5 linked regions of the Homo sapiens genome follow. The protein of the gene in region 5 interacts with the protein of the main gene of each other region in a pairwise test. Each region holds a gene or a part of one and is shown on either strand. Other genes may lie near its edges. The genes, in order: SECISBP2L, OAS2, AKAP10, RBM12B and SASH1.

The links.
Region 1: the proteins of SASH1 (region 5) and SECISBP2L interact in a two-hybrid assay, tested with the Homo sapiens proteins (one large-scale study listed by BioGRID).
Region 2: the proteins of SASH1 (region 5) and OAS2 interact in a two-hybrid assay, tested with the Homo sapiens proteins (one large-scale study listed by BioGRID).
Region 3: the proteins of SASH1 (region 5) and AKAP10 interact in a two-hybrid assay, tested with the Homo sapiens proteins (one large-scale study listed by BioGRID).
Region 4: the proteins of SASH1 (region 5) and RBM12B interact in a two-hybrid assay, tested with the Homo sapiens proteins (one large-scale study listed by BioGRID).

What each region holds. Positions count from the first base shown.
Region 1 is NC_000015.10:49,043,588-49,047,776, forward strand, and holds the start of SECISBP2L (selenocysteine insertion sequence-binding protein 2-like), read right to left. Parts: upstream 2,860-4,189; 5' UTR 2,713-2,859; coding exon 2,689-2,712; intron 1-2,688. UniProt on the Homo sapiens protein: Binds SECIS (Sec insertion sequence) elements present on selenocysteine (Sec) protein mRNAs, but does not promote Sec incorporation into selenoproteins in vitro.
Region 2 is NC_000012.12:113,009,452-113,012,286, forward strand, and holds the end of OAS2 (2'-5'-oligoadenylate synthase 2), read left to right. Parts: 3' UTR 1-922; coding exon of another isoform or gene 923-1,033; 3' UTR 1,034-2,272; downstream 2,273-2,835.
Region 3 is NC_000017.11:19,971,251-19,974,880, reverse strand, and holds part of AKAP10 (A-kinase anchor protein 10, mitochondrial isoform 1 precursor), read left to right. Parts: intron 1-3,630. UniProt on the Homo sapiens protein: Differentially targeted protein that binds to type I and II regulatory subunits of protein kinase A and anchors them to the mitochondria or the plasma membrane.
Region 4 is NC_000008.11:93,730,900-93,734,529, reverse strand, and holds part of RBM12B (RNA-binding protein 12B), read left to right. Parts: coding exon 1-1,125; 3' UTR 1,126-3,630.
Region 5 is NC_000006.12:148,345,799-148,349,428, forward strand, and holds part of SASH1 (SAM and SH3 domain-containing protein 1), read left to right. Parts: intron 1-3,630. UniProt on the Homo sapiens protein: Is a positive regulator of NF-kappa-B signaling downstream of TLR4 activation. It acts as a scaffold molecule to assemble a molecular complex that includes TRAF6, MAP3K7, CHUK and IKBKB, thereby facilitating NF-kappa-B signaling activation.

The sequences.
Region 1 (4,189 bases), on a different chromosome or scaffold from region 5:
CTTCACATCTCAAAATGCAAGTTTTTTTTTTTTTTTCAGGGGAAAAAATGCATTATATACCAAGCAACACATATTCTTAGAATATTTAACTCTGGCAGTTAAAATTAAGCTAGCTATTTTGATTAAATACAGAGAATACTCTATAAAAAGTGCTGAAAGAGGATACTCCTAAGATTTTCTTCTAGTTATAACATTCTTTCAAATAATCATTATTGCAATTAAGATTATCCATCTAGCACTGTATTCCCAGTAAGTTACTTTTTACAATCTTGATCAGCACACATACAATTTACCTTTTCTATAAAAAGATTTTATATATTAAAAAAAGGTAATTCACAAGAACAAGAACATGAATGCCTTCAGGCAAAAAAAAAGCGTTTTTTTTTTAAAGTTACACTTGTAAAGTACACAAGGATTTAATTAGGTTAAGATAAAATGCAGAAAGTCTATATTAAGTACTACTTTTTAAAAACCAAACTTCTATGAATTGCTAACTACCACAATACTATAATGAGTAAGTTTTAATGCTGTAGGCATCTAGAGAAATTCTGAGTATGTCAACACTGGTCTAAAGGGAAAAAAACATTCTGTGAGGAAAAATGGAAATTGACACATATTACATATACTTTTCAATGACGTCAATCTACCTAAATTCACTTCAATAGTAGAAATACAAAAGTATAATCCAAATATCCTGGAAAAGCCATTACATGACTCTATGGCATAAAGAATCAAGAATTCCACAAAATTGAGAAATCTCAGTTCCCAATCTACTATTAAGTTAATGGTTCTTAGCCGTCCTTTGAGAATACGATGAAAATAATGGATTCTTGCCCTAGAAAAAGGCATATAAAGAAGCATACTCCTTCTAGGTCATTCATGGACCCCTGAATTAACTGCCTATCGCATAAATGAGGTGAAGACATCACTTTTCTATATATATTTTCTGAGTGTATAGGGAAGTGGAGGATTTTCAAATTATTCTTTCATTTAGGGTTAGGCTGGGGAAGAGGCAAGAAGTACTGGAAGAAAAAAAAGTCAACAGAAAACCTTCTTCCATGTTTTTTTCCTAGTTCTTAAATTTCTACAAGGTTTTAATAGGTCGTGGACTTTGGAAAGATGTGGAAAGGGGAAAAGGCTCTCTAGTTTAAATAATTTGCTCACAGCACTTGCTGCTAGGATAATCACAAACAGCTATGCTAAAAATTACCATCTAAATAGTTAATTATATTTCCTCTAGGATGAAAGGAACTCTAAGTATACATAAGGTAGCATTACTGGTTTTAGTCCTGGCATCCTAGTGAAGGAACAAAATGTTGAACCCTTTCATTAGTAACACACATACAAGGAAATGATTCAAGGAAAATTCGTATTCATTTGTCAGGCTTTGAAATCTCAGGTATTTATGATAGATACCTTCAAAAATGTTTTTAAATTAAACTAGATACAGGCTGTATACAGAATACTTCTGGGTCACATAAATGCCTAAGTGTATTTGCCAAGAGACTCTGTATCAATTTCTCTTTGGTAATTCCATGTATTGTTTTATAAAACTCATTTGTGTCTTCAGAGTTACATTCACATAAAGCTTTTTTTTAAAAAAAAAAGTCTTCTGTAAAAACAAGTATACACAACTAGGAAGCTGTGCTTTGCCTGCTAAGAGTCCGATTTCAAAATACAAACCGGCTTCAACTACATATAGACACATACAGGAATTTGGGAAATCTTATCTCATTAATTCAGGTGCTAATTATCCAACTGTAAAATTAATAGGCAGAAATTACTAGCCTCTCTTCTTCCGTCATCTAGTCATCAATGGGCAAGGCCTTCGAAGAAGGGAATAGAGAGTGAATAAACTTGGACTTCAAATTAAGTCGTTTCGCAGAGATCTTAAGAGTGGAAAATACTGGGGGGGAAACTATTGTTTTCGATTACTTTTAACACTGTTATCATCCCTGCCTGCTACCACCTACTAGCATGCATAATCAGGAATTTGATGCAAATAAAAATAAAACAGAACACTAATAGGACTACTTTGCGAATATGAAAACGGGTTCGAAAATAAGCTTATGCTTTACACCCTTAAAATAGAGCTAGCTTTAAAAAAAAACCCACTAATTACAATTCTTTGCAAAATAACTGGATAAAAGGACAAGGGGAAATCGTAGTATCGTTTCTTAAAAGAAACACCTCCGTAAAACCACTGCAAAAACAATGCTTCGCTCCATTGAACACAGACCTAAAAGGCCCGTGACTTCCCTTCATCTGTAGTTACCACACATTCTCTTACAGTCTTTCTGGGTGAGAAGCCTTCAAACGCCTTTCCACCTTGAAAACACATTCCAGAGCTGAAGGGAATGGGGGAAGCGGGGAGACTACTAGAAGTTATAAGCCCTCCTCCCAGGAGAGCAGGGACAACTTGGAGCCTTCTGACCCCTTCACCAAGCAGGGGAGAAGCGGCAACGGCGAGCCCTCCGCCTGGGAAGTAATCAGGGTTGGAAAAGCCCCCAAGTCCCAGGCAGCAGCTGGAACAATGAAGGAGAGCTGGGAGCTGCCAGGCTCCCAGGTGAGGGGGTCTGCGGCCGCAGGACCGGCCCCCGGTCCCCACGTTCGGAGAACTGGGCCTGGCCTGTGAGGAAGCGGCGACCCCAACCCCCGGCTCGGCGGGCCCAGCCCAAACCCGCGTACCTGCTCCGTGGGGGCTCGGTCCATGGTGCCTGCAGCCGCAACGGGCCCGCGCTAGTCGGTGTAAACAGCGCCTCGGGCCGCTTTCTCCATGGCCCCCCGCTCGGGTCCAGACTGGGTTCCGGACCTCCGCCCCTATCTGGCTGGCCGCGACACCGATTCGGCTACGCCACTGGCCGAGGAGGCGGCTCCAGCTCCGGGAGATGGAGGAGGCGGTGGCAGCTTCGGGGAGGGATCATCTGGGACGGAAGCCGAGGAGGGCCCGAATGGGCTGGAGGCGTAGTTAGAAATGGAGGCGCACGGAAGGAAAAGGAGTGGGGAGGAGGCAGAGAGGGGCAGTGGGCGGAGTGACAGCAAATGGCCTCAGCAAGGGTAGGAGGAACCCGGCCTGGCCTGGAGGCTAAGGCCAGGTGGAGGCGCCCAGGAGCAGGTGCCCCGAACCACACGCCACCCCTGCGACTGTTAAACGAGAAGTGTCAGACCACTTGGGACCCAGGTCTCCCGGGACTTCAAAGACCTCTTCAGGATCTGAAACCACCTCTTAGTGATGTTGGAAAAGCTTTCATCTGCCCACCGTACATCTGCTCCTTCCTTATGTTACGCAAATAAAGGGAGTCATGACTATAAAGGAATGAGAATATTCTGAAAATAATGGAGTCTTGCCCTAGAAAAATGCATATGTAAAACGCATACACAGAATGACTGGAAGAGGCCCGCTAGGAAGCTCCCCACAAATATTTATTGAGAGTTAATTCATTATCCAGGTTCATGCCCACTTCTAGGCTCACATCCAGGCTGACCTCGCCCATCTCAGAAATCCTAATTTTATGCAGGATCTGTATAACACCACCCAACGGGTAATTATTTTATCTTCAGATCCTTAGCTCCTTAAGGGCAGAGACTGTCTTGAAACTGGGCACTACCGTTAGCATGGCAAATTTCTTCTGGGCATCTCCTCAGACACACCCTCCAACACCCACACCCTCTGTGAAGATTCAACCAACTGCGGATAGAAATATTTTGAGGAAAAAAGAAATATCAAGTACAACAATAAAATACAAGTAATACAGTTTAACAACTGCTTATACAGCATTTACATTGTATTAGGTATTATAAGTAATCTAGAGATGATTTAAAGTATATCGGAGGATATGCATGGATTGTATGCAAATACTACACCATTTTATATAAGGATCTTTAGCACTCATGGATTTTGGTATCAGCAGGGATCCTGGAGCCAATATCCCCCCTGGGATACTTAGGGACAACTGTATAAGCTAAATTACACTTAAGTGAAGGTAGAGTTGAGGTGGCTGCTGTTTGGGGCACTGGTGTGGAGATCCACAGCTAGGAATGGGAAAGAGATTTTAAGAAATTTGCTTTGTCATGCTTCAGGAGATATCAGTAAAGACTAATTGCCTTTTCAGTTAGTCTAGGTTATTAGTCTGGTTATTAGACTCCAATATGAGGCTTGTTATGTGAAGGCCCCTTGCTGTACTTATGT
Region 2 (2,835 bases), on a different chromosome or scaffold from region 5:
TGCGCAGCATCCCTAGTCTCTACCCAGTAGATGCCACTAGCCCTCCTCTCCCAGTGACAACCAAAAGTCTTCAGACATTGTCAAACGTTCCCCTGGGTTCACAGATCTTTCTGCCTTTGGCTTTTGGCTCCACCCTCTTTAGCTGTTAATTTGAGTACTTATGGCCCTGAAAGCGGCCACGGTGCCTCCAGATGGCAGGTTTGCAATCCAAGCAGGAAGAAGGAAAAGATACCCAAAGGTCAAGAACACAGTGATTTTATTAGAAGTTTCATCCGCAAATTTTCTTCCATTTCATTGCTCAGAAATGTCATGTGGCTACCTGTAACTTGAAGGTGGCTACAAAGATGACTGTGGACGTGGGTTGCACTGGCCACCCAAGGATGTCTGCCACACCTCTCCAAAGCCCTCCCTACCTACCAAGATATACCTGATATATTCCACCAGGATATCCTCCCTCCAGATATACTTGGTTCTCTCCACCAGGTTCTTTCTTTAAAGCAGGATTTCTCAACTTTGATACTTACTCACATTTGGGGCTAGACAGTTCTTTGTTTGGAGGCTCTCTTGTGCATTGTAGGATGTTGAGCAGCATCTCTGGCCTGTACCCAGTAGATGCCACCCAGTTGTGACAATTAAAAGTGTCTTGAGACTTTATCATGTGTCTTCTGCCCTAGGTGAGAACCCTTGCACTAGAGGAACCCTACACCCCAACCCTGGGGGGAATGTAGGGAAGAGGTGGCCAAGCCAACCGTGGGGTTAGCTCTAATTATTAAGATATGCATTATAAATAAATACCAAAAAATTGTCTCTGGCAATAGTTACCTTCCCAGATACAGGTCCCCCCTTTTTTCCCCTAACTCTTTTAAGCAATGATTGTAACTATTAGGAGACATTGCTCTCCCACGTATGTTTTTCTTTTTAGACAATGCAGACACCAGGAAGTTGTGGAGCTAGGATCCATCCTATTGTCAATGAGATGTTCTCATCCAGAAGCCATAGAATCCTGAATAATAATTCTAAAAGAAACTTCTAGAGATCATCTGGCAATCGCTTTTAAAGACTCGGCTCACCGTGAGAAAGAGTCACTCACATCCATTCTTCCCTTGATGGTCCCTATTCCTCCTTCCCTTGCTTCTTGGACTTCTTGAAATCAATCAAGACTGCAAACCCTTTCATAAAGTCTTGCCTTGCTGAACTCCCTCTCTGCAGGCAGCCTGCCTTTAAAAATAGTTGCTGTCATCCACTTTATGTGCATCTTATTTCTGTCAACTTGTATTTTTTTTCTTGTATTTTTCCAATTAGCTCCTCCTTTTTCCTTCCAGTCTAAAAAAGGAATCCTCTGTGTCTTCAAAGCAAAGCTCTTTACTTTCCCCTTGGTTCTCATAACTCTGTGATCTTGCTCTCGGTGCTTCCAACTCATCCACGTCCTGTCTGTTTCCTCTGTATACAAAACCCTTTCTGCCCCTGCTGACACAGACATCCTCTATGCCAGCAGCCAGCCAACCCTTTCATTAGAACTTCAAGCTCTCCAAAGGCTCAGATTATAACTGTTGTCATATTTATATGAGGCTGTTGTCTTTTCCTTCTGAGCCTGCCTTTCTCCCCCCCACCCAGGAGTATCCTCTTGCCAAATCAAAAGACTTTTTCCTTGGGCTTTAGCCTTAAAGATACTTGAAGGTCTAGGTGCTTTAACCTCACATACCCTCACTTAAACTTTTATCACTGTTGCATATACCAGTTGTGATACAATAAAGAATGTATCTGGATTTTGTGCCTAGTTCCTAGCACACAGCTTCAAAAATTCTAGAGTTTCCTGATAGGAGTGTCTTTTGTATTCATAACAAGCCCTTTTCACCCATGCCTGGGTTTATGCTAACAAGGTTACCCATGGTGGGCCCTTAGTTTCAAGGAAGGAGTTGGCCAAGCCAGAAAGACCAAGCATGTGGTTAAAGCATTGGAATTTTCAGCCCCATCCCACCCCCAATCTCCAAGGAGGTGATGGGGCTGGAAATTGAGTTCAATTTTAACATGGCCAGTGATTTAAGCAATGCTGCCTATGTAAAGAAACCCCAATAAAAACTCTGGACAGTGAGGCTTGGGGAGCTTCCTGATTGGCAGACATTCCAATGTACTAGGAAGGTAGCGCATCTTGATTCCACAGGGACAAAGGCTCCTGAGCTCTGGGCCCTTCCAGTGCTTGCCACCCTACATACTCTTTGTCTGGCTCTTCATTTGTATTCTTTATAATAAAATGGTGATTGTAAGTAGAGCATTTTCCTGAGTTCTATGAGTCATTCTGCAAATTATCAAAACTGAAGGAAAGTCATGGAAACTCCCAAGTTTGTAACCAAGTCGGACAGAGGTGTGGGTAGCCTGGGGACCCCATGTATGGCTGGAGTCTGAAAGAAGGGTGGACTTGGTGAGGACCTTGCTCTTTAAATTGTGGGATCTACACACATTCCAGGTAGTCAGTGCCAGACTTGACTTAAATTGCAGGACAGTCAGCTGGTGTCACAGATTAGGTGTTGGAATGCACCACTACTCTTGTCCAGGATGCAGGCAAAAGAAATATATATGAAGATGTTGAAAAATGGAAGAATACAGGAAACAAGCATGAGAAGAAAAGGCAAAAATAATTTTTAAAAAGTTTTTTAAATGATAAAAAACATTTAATGAAAGAATGACCACTTTAAGTACACATCTACTCAGTCTACAACTAGTTACCAGGGCCTTCTGGATGCCCAAACTTGCACTAGATACATAGGCAGGAAACACGGAAGCAGAAACTGTGAGACGCTGTCCCCATCCTCACAGGGCTTGGCTGGAGGAACTGGA
Region 3 (3,630 bases), on a different chromosome or scaffold from region 5:
TACAGCATAGAGAGACTCCATCTCTACAAAAAGAAAAAATAAATAGCTGGGTGTTGTGAGTTATTCAGGAGGCTGAAGCAGAAAGATCACTTGAGCCCAGGAGTTTGAGGCTGCAGTAAGCTATGATCCCACCACTGCAACACAGTGAGATCTTGTCTCAAAAAAAAAAAAAAATCATTCTAGGTGCTTTTTGGAGGCTGGATGTGGTAAGAGTAGAAGCTGGAGATGGTCCTGTTAGGGATTCGATTCAGACTTTAAATACCATCAATGCATTGAGTCCCAAATTTACATCACTACGTTGGATCCTTGCCCCTGAATCCAGACTGGTATATCCAACTTTAGGTTCAGTTTGTATCTCTACCTGACCAATATAGAGGTGTCCAGTCTTTTGGCTTCCCTAGGCCACATTGGAAGAAGAATTGTCTTGAGCCACACATAGAGTACACTAACGCTAACAATAGCAGATGAGCTAAAAAAAAATCGCAAAACTTATAATGTTTTAAGAAAGTTTACGAATTTGTGTTGGGCACATTCAGAGCCATCCTGGGCCGCGGGATGGACAAGCTTAATCCAGTAGATACCTTCAACTTACAATATCTAAAATTTTATGCCAGATTTAGTCATTTTAAACCTGCTCATCAGTTTTTCTCAAGAAGTAGTATTTTGGCTTTTTTTCTTTTCTTTTTTTTGAGATGGAGTTTCGCTCTTATCGTTCAAGCTGGAGTGCAGTGGCGGATCTTGGCTCACTGCAACCTCCGCCTCCTGGGTTCAAGTGATTCTCCTGCCTCAGCCTCGCAAGTAGCTGGAATTACAGGCATGCGCCACCATGACCAGCTAATTTTTGGAGACAGGGTTTCACCATGTTGGTCAGGCTGGTTTTGTACTCCTGACCTCAGGTGATCTGCCTGCCTCGGCCTCCCAAAGGCTGGGATTACAGGCATGAGCCACCGCTCCCGGCTGCATTTTTGGATTTTTAGTTGCTCAGCCCAAAACTTTAGTACATCTTTGAACCTCTTCTTTCCTCCTACTCTATATCTGATCCATCAGCAAATCTGTTAGGTCTACCTCACACATATCGAAATCCTACCACGTCTCACCATCTGTGACAATTAACACCCTGGTCTAGGCAGTCATCTCTGTTAAGATTGAGTGGTTAAGGATGTCCTCTAAGGAGATGACATTCAAATCTTAGCTTAAATGTCAAGAGGGAGCTGGTTTTATAAAGATTGAGGAGGCAGCATTATTTTGCCATAGGCTTCCATTTGGTTTCCATTCCATTCTTGATACTTATGGTATATATTCAAAACAAATGCACAGAAACAGACCCAGGTATATTGGGAATTTCGGATATAGAGTTCCTAGTTGGGAAAAGATAGACTGATCTGTAAATGATGCTAGTTATCCATCATCTGGCAAAAAATAATTTCCTGCCTCCTCTCATATATCTCAGATCAACAGACTTTTTCTGTTAAGGGCCAAATCATAAATATTTTAGGCTTTCCAGACCATATGGTTTCTGTCACACTCTCCTTTATCCTTGAAGCCATAGACAATATGTAAACAAATGGGCATGGCTGTGCTACGATAAAACTTTACTTACAAAAACTGGTAGTGGGCCAGTTTAGGCATGGCCAGCACTTTGGGAGGCTAAGGCAGATGGATCACTTGGGGTCAGGAGTTTGAGACCAGCCTGGCCAACATGGTGAAACCCTGTCTCTACTAAAAATACAAAAAATAGCTGGGCATGGTGGTGGGTGTCTATAATTCCAGCTACTCTGGAGGCTAAGACACAAGAATCACTTGAACCCAGGAGGCAGAGGTTGCAGTGAGCTGAGATAGCACCACTGCACTCCAGCCAGGGTGACGGAGTCTTAAAGCAAAACAAAACAAAAGGTAGTGGGTTGTATTTGGCCCATGGGCTGTAGTTTGCCAATCCCTGATGCAGAAACAAATTCCAGGTAAATAAGAGCCTGGAATGTTAAAAAAACAAAACTTGAAGTCATGTAGAAGAACAGGTAGGGGGAACAATCCTGATCTCAGGATAGGAAGGGATATTGCTTAAAATAAGACACAGGAAAATATAATCCATGTTGTGTAAATTTGACTACGTTAAAACTTAAAACTTTCGCCAAGCGCGGTGGCTCACGCCTGTAATACCAGTACTTTGGGAGGCCGAGGTGAGCAGATCACCAGGTCAGGAGATTGAGACCATCCTGGCTAACACGGTGAAACCCCGTCTCTACTAAAAATACAAAACATTAGCCGGGCGTGGTGGCGGGCGCCTGTAGTCCCAGCTACTTGGGAGGCTGAGGCAGGAGAATGGCCTGAACCCGGGAGGCGAAGCTTGCAGTGAGCTGAGATCGCGCCACTGCACTCCAGCCTGGGCGACAGAGTGAGATTCCGTCTCAAAAAAACAAAACAAAACAAAGCAAAAAACCTAAAACTTTCATACAATAAAGTATACCTAAGATACTTCTAGAAGAGAAGATTTACATCCAGGACGTGTATGGAATTTCTGCAAGTAATAAGTAAAAGACAAGGGACATGAAGAGGCAGTTCACAAAAGAGGAAGCCAAAATGACCAATAAACATGAAAGGATGTTTAACCTCAAAGGAAACAAGGAAATGAATTAAAAACATCAAATGCCATTTCAAAACTAGTAAGTTGGCAAAATTAAAAATACCAAGGATGAGAATATGAAGCATGGCTATATGAGTGCATGGAATGGTACAGTCACTTTCATTAAAAATGCACATAATTTGTTTTTTATTTATTTTTTTGAGACAGTCTATGTCGCCCAGGCTAGAATGCAGTGGCATGATCTCGGCTCACCACAATCTCTGCCTCCTGGGTTCAAGCAATTCTCCTGCCTCAGCCTCCTGAGTAGCTGGGATTACAGGCACATGCCACAACGCCCGGTTAAGTTTTGTATTTTTAGTAGAGACAGGGTTTTGCCATGTTGGCCAGGCTGGTCTCGAACTCCTGACCTCAGGTGAGCTGCTTCCCAAAGTGCTGGGATTAGAGGCGTGAGCCAATGCTCCTGGCTGAAAAAAATGCACATAATTTGTTACCTAGCAATTCCATGTCTAGAGGCTTATCCTAGAGAAATTCTTGCTTATATGCATAGGAAGACGTGTACTAGAATGTTCACTAGTTGAATGTTTAAGTGAAAATTAGGAAATAAAGTAAATGTTCATTAACAGGAAAATGAGTAAAGGTATATTTATAAAACAATTAAGTAGCTAAAATGAATAAACTAGAGCTGCGTGAATGAACTAGAACTGGTTCAATAGTCATGTCAGATTATTGAATGAATACAGGTCAGATATGTATAGAGTGTCATTTGTGTAATTAATTTTTTTTTTTTTTTTGAGATGGAGTCTCACTCTGTTGCCCAGGCTGGAGTGCAGTGGCGTGATCTCAGCTCACTGCAACCTCCACCTCCTGGGTTAAAGTGATTCTCCTGCCTCAGCCTCCCGAGTAGTTGGGATTACAGGCATGCACCACCATGCCCAGCTCATTTTCCTATTTTTAGTGGCCACAGGGTTTCACCATGTTGGCCAGGCTGGTCTTGAACTCCTGACCTCAAGTGTTCCACCCAACTTGGCCTCCCAAAGTGCTAGGATTAC
Region 4 (3,630 bases), on a different chromosome or scaffold from region 5:
AGGCGGCCACTGGAGGAGGATTTCAGGCGGTCTCCCACGGAGGACTTCAGGCAGCTCCCCGAGGAGGACTTCAGGCAACCCCCTGAGGAGGACTTAAGGTGGCTCCCAGAGGAAGATTTCAGGCGGCCACCTGAGGAGGACTGGAGACGGCCCCCAGAGGAGGACTTTAGGCGGCCTCTTCAGGGAGAATGGAGGCGACCACCCGAGGATGACTTCAGGCGGCCCCCAGAGGAGGATTTCAGGCATTCCCCTGAGGAGGACTTCAGGCAGTCACCCCAGGAGCATTTCCGGAGGCCACCTCAGGAGCATTTCCGTCGGCCACCCCCAGAGCATTTCCGGAGACCACCTCCAGAGCATTTTAGGCGGCCTCCCCCAGAGCACTTCCGGCGGCCACCCCCAGAGCACTTCAGGCGGCCACCCCCAGAGCATTTCAGGCGCCCGCCCCCGGAGCACTTCCGGAGACCGCCCCAGGAGCATTTCAGGCGGCCGCCTCAGGAGCATTTCAGGCGCTCCCGAGAGGAAGATTTCAGGCACCCACCAGATGAAGACTTCAGGGGCCCTCCTGATGAAGACTTTAGGCACCCTCCTGATGAGGACTTCAGGAGCCCCCAGGAGGAAGATTTTAGATGCCCTTCTGATGAGGACTTCAGGCAGCTCCCAGAGGAAGACCTTAGGGAAGCTCCGGAGGAGGACCCTAGACTTCCTGACAATTTTAGACCTCCTGGTGAGGATTTTAGGAGCCCGCCTGATGATTTTAGAAGTCACCGCCCTTTTGTGAATTTTGGTCGCCCAGAAGGTGGCAAGTTTGATTTTGGAAAGCATAATATGGGAAGTTTTCCTGAGGGGAGATTTATGCCTGATCCAAAAATAAATTGTGGTTCAGGTAGAGTAACTCCTATTAAGATAATGAATCTTCCATTTAAAGCTAATGTGAATGAAATTTTAGACTTTTTCCATGGTTACAGAATCATACCTGATTCAGTTTCGATACAGTATAATGAGCAAGGCTTACCTACAGGGGAAGCCATTGTTGCTATGATAAACTATAATGAAGCTATGGCTGCTATTAAAGATCTAAATGATAGGCCAGTTGGGCCCCGAAAAGTTAAGTTAACTTTGCTGTAGAGAGAGAGCATTTCTAAATTCAGTTATCTTCCTTGCAGTATTGATGGAGTAAAATACATTTGTTTTAAAAAAGTGTTTTTTTTTTAAATTATCTAATGAAATATTTTATTTTTGACCTGTGAATAGAACAAATGTAAATAGTAGAATGTGAATCTGGTTTTCTTTTGCTTGCAAATTGCCATTCTTTTTTTTTTTCAAATTTAAAATTACACATGCTGTTTTTTTCTTTGATGGGGAGAAAGAACTCATTCCCTGAGTTCATTCATTTTTGTTGATGTCATCGGTAATCTTCAAGACTTATTGAAGTAGAGTTGTATTTGGGGAAGATACATTTTATATTCACTTTTTTTTTTCTTTCTGTAGTCTACCTCTTTTACTCAAACTGTATAAGGAAATAGTGACTGATTGTTCAGGTTTGGCATTTTCATTGCTACCTGCCTGCAGAATTAATGCCCTCTTCCTTGTCTAAGATATTACTGTGTTAAGTGTCCTGTTAATTATAAATAGTTCAAAATGGACAGACTGTCAACTTGAAATTTACTTATGTAAAAAGCTTAGGTGATTCTTAGGGTTTCCATGTTCATAACTTTACAAAGCTTTATAAAAATAAAATTGCAACTTAATAGAGCTAATTAACTTGTATTTGTATAAAAAGAAAAAAGAATTGCAGCTCGATATTGTGAAGTTTTTCAATAACTTCATTAAACCATATTTATGATGGGAGGGACCAGACATTCTATAGTAATAATGTATAGTGCTGTGTATAATTCCATGGTTTCTTCAACATCTTATCAACCAAGTAAAATTAATACAAGATACGCAAAAGATAGTAAAATAAGAATCTAATTATAGGTGCAAGGGGACTCAGGCTTATGCTGGAAGAATCTGACAAGTGGTATAGTTTGTTTTTCTAGGAAGAATTTACTGATGAGTCACATAACTTGCATGTAATATTAGGTTCTCATTTTTTAGCTTCGAAACTGTGTCCATGCAAAGACTCTATAACTGTTAAGACTTGTGTGGTTGAATTTTGACTTCTTTGATATTCAGCATTTAGTGCATACATTTTGCAACTAGGGAATTTGATTTTCTATACCCACAATAATATTTATGGCTAACATTTATTAGGCACTTACTATGTGCTAGGCACTGTAAGCACTTTACATGCATAATCTCGGTATTCCCTGTGAGTACAGGGTTAATTATTTACCTCTATTTCACAAATGAGATAATGAAGTGGGATGAAGTGCGAGGTTAAGCAACTTGCTTGAAGTCATAGGTAGTAAATCGTGGGGCCAATTTTAACCCAGACAGACCACTGACTCCAGTTCATGCTTTTGCTGCCTCACTTTTTTAAGTGGTATTTTTAATTAGGAAGACCATGCTAAAGATACTTTCAAGGATAAATGATTATTTTCTCACTTCAATTGTTGGTTTAAAATTAGCATAAATAGGTAAAACCAGCATGCTCAAACACTGAGCTCAAACATTAACATTACTAATAAAAAAAAAAAGAGTGACTTTAAAAGTTTCTTTCTATCCAGGGTTTCTCTTGGGATACTCATATGGTATATTACTGGCTTATATTTCAAAATTATTTTATTCAACATGATTGACTTTGGCCTTTTATAATTTACATAAAACATAATTTTCCTCAGTTCTGTAATCCAGATTTTCCCCATTGAGTAAATAATACAATTAAATTTACATATGGTAATTTAGACATTTAATAGGATATTGCATAGGTAGAATACTTTGTCAGTACTTAGTTACTACCTATATGTATTTTTGTGTTACTTTTCAGTGATTTAAAGAAATCTAACAGAAATCTGCTTAAATTTGTTTTAAATAGTGAATATCCTGCTTGCTATGGAATGAATAAACAGGTAAATTTGATATGAAAAAGCACCTCAGTATGATTCTTTAAAGTATAAGCTTGTAAGTAGCTAGGATAATGTTAAATTGATTGTTTGGAATATCCAAACCAAGCACAATGAAGAAAGTAGAAATGATATTTTTAATTGAGCAAAGATTGTATAGATGGTTCATTTGGTCACCCATTTTGAATAATATATGGAAAGTTAAAAAATGCTTCTCAGATACAAAGGAATAAAGCTAAGATGAAGCTTAACGTGAGGGATTACTTACTGTGGAATTGCATTTCAAACTGGGCTGAGGTGGGATGGTGGTGGTAGATAAGAGGCCAGCTAGAGTAAACATAAGCTTTGTAGTTTTATTATTTTAAGAGTCAGAGTCTTGTTCTGCTGGCCAGGCTGGAGTGCAGTGGTCTGATAATGGTTCACTGCAGCTTCTAACTCCTGGGCTCAAGCTGTCTTCCTGCCTCAGCCTCCTGAGAGCTGGGACTACAGGTGTGTGCCACCTTGTCTGGCTAAATTTTTTATTATTTGTAGAGACAGAGTCTCACTGTGTTGCCCAGGCTGTTCTCAAATTTCTGGCCTCAAGCAATCCTCACTCCTTGGTCTCCCAGAATGTGTTGGGATTACA
Region 5 (3,630 bases):
TGACAATGTTAGACTTGTCCCTGGTCGCTGGCCCCTCCAGTAGGGATCCTGATGTCATGACGCTCCATAGTTAACTCTCAGATGAATTCAGTAGAAATGTAGTTCAGTACATTTAGAAATCCTGTGTGTTTTAGGTAAAATGTGACTTACAAGATTCTTTTTCCGTACTGAACTTGAAGAGGACAGTAGAGGTAGTTGGGAAATTACACATCTGAACATTATCCTTAACAGATTTCAGACACAGTTCTACCTTACTTTTTCAGATTATTCTAATTGTGGAAATCAAACCACACAGCTTATCAATACTGTATGTGGAACTTTGAAATGACAAAACTCACAGCTTAGTAAGTGAAAACATTTTTAGGTGAATGAGCAATATTGAGCAGTTGTCCCCCAGGGGATTTTGTTGGTTATAACCCAGTGAAAGTATTGCCCCAGAGTCATGGATCTCAGTAAATACAGGATGGTTGTTTGAGTTCATTAGGACACATTTTGCATTTAGATTAATTCAGTCCATGCACAGTTAAGCACCAAATAGTTGCTTTCAGATAATTGTTAACAAAGTGCTCATTTAGAAAAGAAATAATAGTATAATTTACGGCATGAAAATGTTTGAGCAGTACTAGAATAAATAAATGCTAATAAGTGAATATATAAATGGATATAGAATTAAGAGAAAACAAGCTTGCAAAAAAAAAAAAAAATTAACTAGATTGTGAGTGCCTGGAGGGCAGGGTCAGTGTCTTACTCATTTTTCTATCTCCAGTGCTCCTGACTTAACTGGGTGCTGAGAACATGGCTTTGTTGAAAGAAAAAGGGGAAAAGTATGTATTTCTTAAATGCAGGAGTCACATCAAAGCATTGTTCTGTCAAGACACATGTGCCTGCTGTAATGTAATGGGTTACATTTATAAAGATGTGAATACATTCTGCTCTGGCTGAAACTGCATTTTGGGCAGTTTCATCGTGCAAATTAAAATCCCAGTGCTTCCACTGGAAACTAATGGTAAACTGCAACATGTTTATAAGCCCTGAGCTATTAAACCTTGGCGTTCTTGTGAAATGTGCCATTCTGTTCACTAACACCACGACATGTGGTAGGCCAGGGTTTTCAAAGCATGTCACTTCTCCCTGTGACATGTGTAGACTTCTATTGAGAAGTGCAAAACTGAGTTAGAATCCTGTGGAATTTTACCCTTTTTTCTTTACTCCATAGTTGGCAGACACGGCATTCCTTTTTTTAGGTAGGGGAGGGAAGTTGTTTTTAAGAGCGGGAATTGCTAAGGTTGTTGATACAGTTAGGTGTGGTAGATCCTTTTTTCAGAACTGATTTATCCATTTGGTAAATTGTGATGGTTCTTCAGCTTCTGCCTACAGGATTTGAGGACTTCTAAGGCAAAGCCTTAGAAGCCTTTAAATCTACTTGTTAACTGGGAAGGGGGTTAGTAAGTGCCTATTGTTTGCAGGATCCTGCAAGATGCACCTCCCCCAAACCTGAAATTTCCTCTGTTTTTGCTCTGTTTCTACAATTTACACCCATTTCCCAGCATGTTTAAAAAATATCCATTGTATAGAGATACTCCGAACCTTCCCCTACTCTAATTCCTGTGCAAGCTACAGAAAGGCAGGCATCAGTCCACAGAACTGCTATATTCATCCTATCTTACTATTTACTCCATTCCTAAAAAATTAACAAGAAAACCCCTAAAACAAACAAACAAAATGTCTCCCTCTTTTCCTTTGTTGTTTTAGGCCCAGTGTGGGGCGGGGAGATGTTAGTGAGATCCTGAGGGGGCTTTTAAAATGCTAACTCCTTTGAAAGCAGTTAATTTACATGTTCTCTTGGGAGGTGTCTAGAGTTGTGCCTATCAGCTAATGACTTAATTAATTTTACGTCTTGGAATTTGAGAGTCAAGCACATTTCAAATATTCTGACTTCACCTTAATTTTATGATGTTCCTTTTAGCCCACTGAAGAAAGCCTTGTGGCCTCTCTATGTGGAGAAGTTGCAGGGTTATGTACTGGAAGGGATTGAAGCGCCCTTGGAAATGCACCCTCAACTCTCATTTAGAGAGAAGGGTTTGGAGGGCTTCCAGGTGTAAAAGACTTACTCAGGGTAACAGAGAGGAGGCAGAACTCAGGCGTCTGGATGTTCACTTCTTTGGCAAAGACTAAGTCAATGGCTTTCATAATTTTATTTATTTATTTGTTTATTTATTTATTTTTGAGAAGGAGTCTCACTCTGTCTCCCAGGCTGGAGTGCAGTGGTGCAATCTCCGGTCACTGCAACCTCTGCCTCCCGAGTTCAAGCGATTCTCCTGCCTCAGCCTCCCAAGTAGCTGGGATTACAGGCGTCTGCCACCACACCTGGCTAATTTTTGTATTTTTAGTAGAGACAGGGTTTAGGCTGGTCTCAAATCCCTGGCCACAAGTGATCCACCCACCTCGGTCTCCCAAAGTGCTGGGATTACAGGCGTGAGCCACTGCGCCTGGCCGGCTTTGATAATTTTGGTTGGGGTTGCCGAATCTTTTCCTGCTAAAGGAGACCCCTTAAGCTTAAGTGACCTTCTTCCATGATTCCCTTCTCCTGCCTTTCTGCCTTTATTTGCTGTTCTCTACCTTGTCTTTCTTTTGCTCAGCCATACAACCCTTCCCTCTGCCACCTGGCTTCTTACTGAGGTCCTTTGCATGCAGCTCTATGGGGACGGAGTGAGAGGCAGTGCTCCTGTGTAGAGTCCTGGGGCTGTGCTGGATCTTGCGCATACATTTCCTTACTTGATCCTTGTAGGAGGTGTGGTCAGTGAGTATTCTTGCCCTCATTTTACAGTTCAGATGTAAACGTCTGTGTCCTAAGTCATGCAGATAGTAGATGGGGAAGCTGAGAGTTGGATCATGTATTTCCCTGAAACTGACTTCCATTTGCAACTGTGTATAGTTCATTCTTTCACACATCTTCTTCAGACGTTTATTGGCTGCTAATTTTTGTTTGTTTAAGCTATTGAGCTATTAGCGATACTTGCCCTTGAATTCTACAAAAGGTTAGTTTTGCTGCAAAAGCCTCAGCCCCACGGTCGCTGAGTATATACCCAACCTCACAGGGCAGTGGGCAGAGCGCCCCGAAGGCGGTAGGATCCCTTCACTCAGGATCAGCAACCCAGGAGCGTCTGGGCGGCCCCTACCAGACATACCTTTGGATTTGGGCCCTGAGGGATAAGTAGGAGTTCCCAGAGAGGTCTTTTCTAGTGAGAGGGATAAAAAGGAAGGTGCGAGGTGGGCCCTTCCCCACAGAGCAAAGAGGGACAAAGGTGGAAGGGCACAGATCTCCCAGATCTGGGTGCTGATGTTGCTGGATAAGGTTTGTGGGCACCGGTGAAAGAGGCCATTGGGCATGGGACTACTTGCGTCTGTGTTTTGGAAAAGTAACTTTTTTATTTCATTCTTTCTTCTTTCTTTCTTTTTTTTTTTTTTTTTTTTTTTTTTTTTGAGTGAGTCAAACTCTGTTGCCCAGGCTGGAGTTACAGTGGCGCGATCTCGGCTCACTGCAACCCTCAACCTTCCAGGTTCAAGCAATTCTCCTGCCTCAGCCTCCCAAGTGGCTGGGATTACAGGCATCTGCCACCATGCCCGGCT